Regions from separate parts of the Homo sapiens genome. Here region 2 is linked to region 1. The links come from fine-mapping of genetic effects on gene expression. A gene starts in region 1. The other region holds a variant in brackets. All regions are shown on one strand. Distances are from middle to middle.

Region 1 (4,000 bases):
CCACTCCCCTATACCCTTCACCCTTGCCCCCCACTGCCAAAATTGGAATTTTCTCATACAGGGACCTTTTCAGCAAGAAAAACTAAATAGATACTTTGTTGTTGTTTTTTTTTCTTATTAGATGTTGGACAAGACAGATATCTTCCAGAATATTTCCTCAATTGTAGAGAAAACAAATTCTTAAAGCTTCTGGTGAAATTTTCATGTAAATAATTTGGAGAAGTTAAATTGCAAGAGATTACTAATTCTCAGTTCTCAGCAGACACTGTCTTTTAACTTCCAAAAGCTTGAAAGGTATGGGTGAGTTTTATTCCAATTATCATCAAAAACTGCAAAAACAGAACCCTTATAAAATATTCTGATCGCTCTTTAAGCTATAACTGTTCTGAGGCAATATGGAGCCTGATATAAATTAAGATGGTAACATTAAAACTTATTTGATGAGGTACTAATGAAAGAGCTAATTGGTAGCTTTTCTTTTTTAATATTCTATTATTAGGAATACAAATTGTTTTATGTTAAAACAATTTTATTTTTATTTATTTATTTTTTTGAGACAGAGTTTCATTCTTTCACCCAGGCTGGACTGCAGTGGCAGGATCTCAGCTCACTATAAACTCAGCCTCCTGGGTTCAAGCAATTCTCTGCCTCAGCCTCCCGAGTAGCTGGGATTACAGGCCCCTGCCACCACACCCAGCTAATTTTTGTATTTTTAGTGAACTCGGGGTTTCACCATTTTGGTCAGGCTCGTCTTGAACTCCTGACCTTGTGATTCACCTGCCTCGGCCTCCCAAAGTGCTGGGATTACAAGCGTGAGCCACCAAGCCCAGCAACAATTTTTAATCAAATAAAAATAATTACTTCTCTGAATTTTTTTGTTATGATGGCCTAGCATATTGTATTATATGGTTTCTTATTTATTAATTTCCACATCTCTAGGCATTCTGGAGGTATCTAAAATTACACACAGGCATTTTACCCATTACTGTACAATTTTCATACAAACATAGAATAAAAGAATGTTCGGTCAATAGAGGAAGATAGGAAAAAAGTCTTCCACTTCAGTGCCATCGTAGAAAAGCAGAAATTCTTCAGTTTTCTCATAGTTGCCATCCCCTCTTGAGTTTTCCAAAAATCAGTGATCCCATTGAACCATTGATGATAGCTTTATGAGCATTTAGAGAATTTCAATTAAAATGAAGCCCATCTTATTCTAACCTGTCACTTTCTAATGTATTTTACTCACATGAACCATTTGTCTGCAAGGCAGTTCAGCATATCTTACCCAACAGATTTCTGAGGATGCTCTAGTTTATCCCCAGCTATAGGTTCTTCCTTTACATCTCCATGTAAACTTACTGAATTTCTTATTTCTTATTATTTTTTTCTGTGCATGCCCAGAGGCTCAAGAAATGAGCCTTTCTATCTTTCTACCTTTACTATCGCCAAGGTAAGCTGGGTAGTCCAGGTGCATGACTGACCTTGGCTAAAGAGTATGTTTGCTTTACTTTTAACTAATTTAACTCATAGAGAAACTTGATCTCAAATGTCCTCTGGAATGACATTTGTTTAAAAAACATGACCTCTGGTTCTTTTCAGATTTAAACAAAGCAATTATAAAAAAGAAAGACAAAGAAATGGTTATAGTCTGAGTTACATATTTTTATGCATGAAATTGTAATTTTGTTGGAAACATGATTAACAATTTTGAAATATTAAGATTGAAAATGAAATCATCATATTACTCACCTTTAAGCAGAGTTTGTGGTGTCCTCGGACCTAAGCTGCAAATTATTGGGGAAAAAATAGGTATGCAGAATGAAGAGGGTATATATGTTAATCCAAACAAAGCTTCTTTTCTTATTGCTAGCTAACACAAGGCAATGCTGTCATATCCCAGAAGCCTAGCAACACCTAGAGGGTTGTCAAAATAAATGTTCTCTGGAACTTGAACTTTGCAAATGATTACACCAATCAGTAGTAACCCTGAAACTCTGGGTGTTGGATGTTACACAGAGTCCTGAATTTTCAGTGAGTTTTCAATTCAAGGGCTATTGTAGTAGCTATTGCTACTGCATAGAAATCTCTCTTTCCATTTTAAAGAATCCTTTAGATTAATTGCTTAAAATTGCTGCCCCCCTTAGGAATGTATAGATTCTTAGTTTTTGATTATAGAATAGTTATTGGTAACTATTTAAGAAATGTTTTTGGAGACAATGTGATTGTGTATGTAGAAAATTCAAAAGAATCTACAAACATTAGAATTAATAAATGAATTTAGTATGATTTATCAACACAAGTTTATTATAGTAAAAAGTGTTTCTATATGCCAGCAAAACCAAACAGAAAATTTAATTTGGAAAGAATTAAAATAGCAATGATCAAATGGGCTCTTTATATGTAATGATGATTACGCTTCTCTGAAATGGTTGCAATTTAACTTTAGATTGAAGTAAAATGGATTTCATCCTAAGGTGAAGCAGAACAAAATAGTGCAATAGAAAAGAAAAAAAACTATAGGGACTGAGAATGTGGATACATATTCTAGTCTTGTTTCTGCACTAAGCAGCTACCAGCTATGTGAGCTTCAATAAATCACTATACCTCATTGGAACACTGGTCCCTCATTTGTAAAACAAGTGTTTTTCAAACTTTTTTCAAAGCAGTAGAAAACAACTAAAACAAATATTCCTTAGACAGCTTAGATTTTTATCACATGGTGGGAAATGATGATCTCAGCAAGTCTAAAGATTACTTGAAACACAGCTGGGAACCCACCACTCAAAGGTCACATAGTTTAATATACATGGTAGTAACTTTCCCAAGGCCAGAGTAAGTCAGAACTGGAATACAGATGATCTGATTTCCAGTCTTTTTTCTCTCTCTTATACTACATTGAGATTTTAAAGATTGAAATTTGGGCCTAAAGAGAAAGTAGAGTGGTGTGCTGCAGACCAGTGTTGAAGCTAGTTTGGGGCTGGGATAGCAGCTTCACCCTTGATTACCTGAGAAGATAAACAGGAAAAGAAATATTTGGTGATTGGACAAGAATATATGTCATTTAATTTGCATATTTCTTTCTTTAATTGGTCTTTGAGGTCCTAAAATAAAATTCATTTGTCCTGAGTTCAAGGTGTTTGGAGCTAAAGGCAAATACTGGAAGTCATAATACAGAGAGATGCAAAGTTAGGTGCCAGTAGGATGAGCTTAAAGAGGACTTTATTTGTAATGTGGGCTATGAAGAGGACAGAGAAGTAAGATTGTATGCTGTGGCACTGGAAAAACACAGGTGGAGAGAGTTAAGGATGGTAAGGGGAAATCCTTGAGATGGAATGCGAATGTCTGTGATCCAAACACTAGAATTGACCCAGCACCAACTAAGAATCTAGAATCTTTTCAACAATGTATTTGGGTTCTCCATCTTGGGTTCTTTTGGAAGGTTAAATGACATATCTCACTCATGAGTCCTTTTTCTAGAGCAGGGATTGGTAAACTAGCCTGATGCCCGTTTTTGTAAATAACGTTTTATAGGAATAAAGTCACACAATTGGCCATTGTTTATGGTTGCTTTTGTGCTACAATGGTAGAGTTAAGAAGCTGGCAACAGAGGCTCTCCAGCCTGAAAAGCCTAAAATATTTACCGTCTGGCCCTTATAGGAAAAGTTGCAACCCAGAGAGAAATATTTCTGGTCTGATACATACAACAAAGTGTCCAGTGGCTTTGGGAAGTAGAAGTAGGCTAATTGGGACTGATGAGTAGGTGATTGTTTCAGAGCTAGGAATTGAATACTTGTGTGCAGTTGTGCTCAGGTCTGACTCTGTGCATGCAAAGAATATAGGTGTTCTCTAAACAATATTTAGATGTGTGCTGCTGAAAAACAAAGTCTGCTATGAAGTTTACTGGCACTGGCTGAGTTGCTTCAGCAACTGCAGGCCTTCTGAAGTTTTGGCTGGTAACACAGAAGACCTTCTCACACAAAATCTCCTATTTTCATAAGGT
Region 2 (4,527 bases), 49 kb after region 1:
TCCCAGCACTTTGGGAGGCCGAGGCGGTCGTATCACCTGAGGTTGGGAGTTCGAGACCAGCCTGACCAACACGGAGAAACCCCATCTCTACTAAAAATACAAAAAAAAATTAGGTGGGCATGGTGGCTCATGCCTGTAAATTCCAGCTACTGAGGAGGCTGAGGCAGGAGAATCACTTGAACCTGGGAGGTGGAGGTTGTAGTAAGCCAAGATGGCGCCATTGCACTCCAGCCTGGGCAACAAGAGTGAAACTCCATCTCAAAAAAAAAAACAAAACAAAAACAAACCAAAAAAACCCCTGCAACTTCTCTAGTCTTAAACACACCAGTCCTATAGATGGATACTGTGGGTAAGGAGAAACAGAATGAATGAAAATGAAAACATGAACAAGTTAGATTTGACAAAATTACACTTCAATTAGTAATGACAAGATACTACACAAAGGTTTGTTTTCCAAATGTGAAATCTCCATTGACTTCACAAAGACATTGTCACACAGCAATCACATATTATAAAAAGCACCATCGCAAATGTACCCAAAACCATATTCTATAAAACTGAACTACTGCCTTTGTAAACTTTCATCTGGAAATCTTTTAACCAGCCATTTCAAGAAGCACCAACCTCATATGCATGCCCACCAATTAAAAAAAAAGAAGAAAAAAGTAGAAAACTTACTATGCATCTATGACTTGAAGAAATACCAGCAGATACTTCAGCACATCAAAATCCAAGTCCAGAGTAACTGGTTTCATATTTCTTATTATGAGCTCTCAGCAGGAATCTTACTATATGATGAAATATTTAAGCTAGAAACATCTCTCTTTAAAAGTATTTCAGTTTTTAAGACTCAGTTTCAGAATAAAATTTAATGAATGTTATGTTGAAGACATACAAAATTAAGAGAGACGGGTATATTTTAGGGAGAAACTCCTATGTATGCTAAACCGGATTGAGAATCTCTACATTTTAGTTTCCTTTTTAAAAGAAATTGCAACAGAGACTCAATGCAAATCCAGACACAACTGTGTTGTTCTGTTTTATCTTCCTACCCCCATCTCCTGCTTATTTTTATCTTTTAGTGCTTTTTTACACAAATTAAACATTGCAAAAACTATTCCAATTTTTAAAAATCGCAAATTCAGAAAGATTGGAGTTGCATCTCAAATATTTAAAAACAAATCTTACAATTAAAATTTTCAAATAATAAAAACAGTAGTTTAAAACTTATTTAATTGTCACTTATCAATCCAAAATTATTATCTTTCACTTCATTTTTAATGAGATTGATTTTCGTTTTTAAATAGCAATGTCACTACATCAGAATGCGGTGATTTTTTTCTGCATTCGAAATACTTTCAAATTCTATGTTTTTGACAGGTTTTTAGATTACATAGAAAATGAATAAAAAACATTCTGTTGAATAAAATATACTGAATTATATAATAAGCAAGACACACTCCTTTGGAGGATAAACTGCTGGCAAAACAAAATATCCTGTATATATATAAGTGAGCAAGAAAATTCTTTCTCTTTTTTCTTTTTTCTTCTTTCTTCTTTTTCTTTCTTTTTCTGTCTCTTTCCCTTCTTTCCTTCTTTCTTTCCTTTCTTCTTTACTCTCAAAATCCACTTTTCCTAAAGTATGTTCTACAAAACTGGAATTGAGAATTAAGGTGGGCAGGGAGGAGAGGGAAAATAAAAAGATAAAATAAAGACAGATAAAATTATAGCAAACAATTGGTAAAGGCTACAGTCACACTCCAGGATGGTAGGCACTGCTTGAAGTAATTTAAAATGGAGCAAAAGCTCAGATTTGTATTGTAGTATGAGGATCAAGGAGGAATTTAACACCTGAAACCATTGTGCCTTTTTATTGTAAATGCTGCTTCCTCCTTCCTACCTCCATAGAAAGGACTTTTTATTTCGCTATTTCTTCCTCTTTGAGGTCCTCTAGGTGTGCATAGTGAGCAGGAAGTTTGTGTCTTCTGGGATAACTCAAAAGATATCTTAAAAGTCTCATTTTTAAGACTGTGTATATCTGTATGGATAGGGCTTGTGTAACTGACTTCCCA[G/A]TTTTGGGGTGAAATTCAACCTTTTCTTTTGTTTCCATTCTTAGAAAACATGGAGAGGCATTCTTTGATTTAGAAAAATTGAGATTATTAGAAATTTTGCTTTTCTGTGTTCTGTAATCCATTTGGTTATGACAAACTTCATACGTGACTGCTGTTTGGAGTCAGTGTGCAAACAAGCATTATCATATTATGAAGAGATTTAATTAACTAGGTAATATGTTTGAATATCCAGTACAAGGTGAAGGCTGCAAAACAAATTAGTTTTACCCACTATCTGAAAAGCATTCCTTCAAACGGAGGGATTTTCAACGTACTTGATTCTTTACTCATAGATCAGGTGGTAAAATAACTAGTTTTATTTTTTTATTTTGGCTGAAGTGTTTTCATCTTTTCTTCACTACGACCTAAGGAAGAAAGCTATTATAACATAAGTATATGACTGGGTAATTTTTTGTCTTTGTTTTTGGGATTGAATTGAAACATGATGTCATTTACAAGGGTGTAAAGTGACCAAACTTGGAAATAAGCCATGGCCATCTCATGGAATTTGTTCCCCAACATTTACAGTTTTTGCAGTGACCAATAGAACAAGTGACCACGTGCAGGTAGTTTATAGGCTGATAGATAGTTCACTGTTCCATGTGAGAAGGATGAATCAAAACTTAAGGTAGATTGGGTGAAAGATATTTGCTGTTTTTAAGATTATTTGACTTTTTAAAAAACTGTAAATACAAATTTCACGTAATTTATTTGAACAATGTCTACTCCTTCCTAAGGTCATTTGATTTCCTCAAAATTCAAGGTCAGACAAGGTTATGCTTCAGCCAAGATTTGCTTTTGGTCCCGTCTTACCTTATCTCTCCTCACCACCATCACTCTCAACTTTGCCTAGAGTTCCCCTCCTCCTAGACCTCTCAGTTGTTTCTCTGTAAACATCGCCTTAGTACTCAGAGTATGTATGACAGCTGCTGAGTGTATAGTGTCCTTATTTTTACAACATACAAGATCTGACCTGCTTAGAAATCTTTCCTGGTTTCCTCCTCTGTCAGACAATCTTGCTTCTCTTTATGGCTTTAGATTCAGGCTACCCAATATTAACAAAACCTGTTAAAGTACTCTTTGGGAGCATCAATAGGTTGGTGTGTGTGTCTCTCCGTCTGGGTAACATCCTTATGTTTTCATAGAGGTCACTGGAACCAGAACACTTAACTCAAATATAGACTGTACTCTCTTCCCTCAATATTATGGCAGAAATAGGTGCCATTGGTCTCAATAAGGACCAACGGATGCAGTATATTAATAGATGGTTCCCATCACCCATAAGTAGCATGAAATACCTGCTTTTTCTGATGTATGATTGTTAAGTTATGGGATAGGGTTCAGCAAAAGCATTAATAGCAACAGAAAGCAAACTATTTATTCCTCTTTCATAACATGAACCAGAATCAAATAGTTGGAAGCCAATTTTTGAATCTGAAGCAGATAATGTTTCCTGTATCCTGCTATTATTTTTCTCCCCAGCATGTGTTCAATGAAGATAAGTCCCGTGAATAGTTATCTGACTCCATAAAAACCATTAGGCCAGAGTCCAATGAGATATCACAGCTGTGCTACGGATGAGATAATAGAAAAAGAACAGCATTCAAAGCTTTTCATAGTATCCATGTATACCTTGAAGAGGGTAGTGGACAGAAGACAGGACCCAGAGTGACGTGGTCCTGACTTCCCTGGGCAGGCATTGAGGGGATGGGATTGGAGTTGGAGCCAGGAAGAAAAGTTATTTAAAGAAAGAGCCAAGAGACTGTTCTATGTTATTTATCTCCTAAAACCTAGAGATTGGGATAGTTCTTTCTTTCCTCATGTTACTGTGGAAGAGTAGGATGCAACCAAGATGTTACAGTAAACTTCAGGCTCCTAGATAAAGCCAAAAAGCAGGATGAAATTGATGGTTCAGGGGCACAGACTCTGAAATTCTTTCTCAGGAAGTGCCTATCATAGGTTCAACCAAAACAAGTCATTAGAACATGTGTAATTCTGTCCTAGTAAGGTCTAAAAGTTGGCTAGTGTGCTGGTGCCTATATTGCTTCCTCTGGCCAAACTGCAATGTCGGGTTTATTTATTAATGGCTATCTTTCCATTAAGCCTGCTTCCACAACCAAATGGAGATTTCTCAGCCTGCCGAAAGGATAAGTCTGACCTCTGTTTGCCTATGTTCTTTAGGCTAGCCTTTTGCTTAATTTTTTAAAAGCTGACTTAAAGATATGACTTTAGGCTACATTAGTAACAGAGGGAAATCTTGGCAAATCTCACCGACAAGAGTGAGTGAGAGCTTCAGGGGTTTGTGCCCCAATGGCCAGGTTTCATCCAAGAGCATTTGTGTCTAAGTGTCAGAATCAGGATATTTTTTAAAACGTGTAGATGTTTTCTTCATGATTAGGTCAAAAGATCAGCTCTA

Direction of the effects. Positions count from the first base shown, and alleles are read on the strand shown. Sizes are in standard deviations (SD) of each study's normalised expression.
With allele G in place of A in region 2, the expression in esophagus mucosa of the gene that starts at base 1,906 in region 1 is lower (small effect, 0.20 SD a copy in GTEx).

What was found. PIP is the estimated chance that this variant, and not a neighbour inherited with it, causes the effect.
Region 2: its variant is the best candidate, but not a certain one, in a credible set for the expression of C6 in esophagus mucosa (GTEx, PIP 0.77).

The regions. Positions count from the first base shown.
Region 1 is chr5:41,211,627-41,215,626 of GRCh38, forward strand. C6 (complement C6) reads right to left here and starts at 1,906. Exons shown (of 18, transcript NM_000065.5): 1 at 1,750-1,906.
Region 2 is chr5:41,260,516-41,265,042 of GRCh38, forward strand. It overlaps a transcript of C6 not described here. Among named protein-coding and RNA genes, the nearest start is that of C6, 49 kb to the left of the region's middle. The variant G/A (reference allele first, on the strand shown) is at 2,073.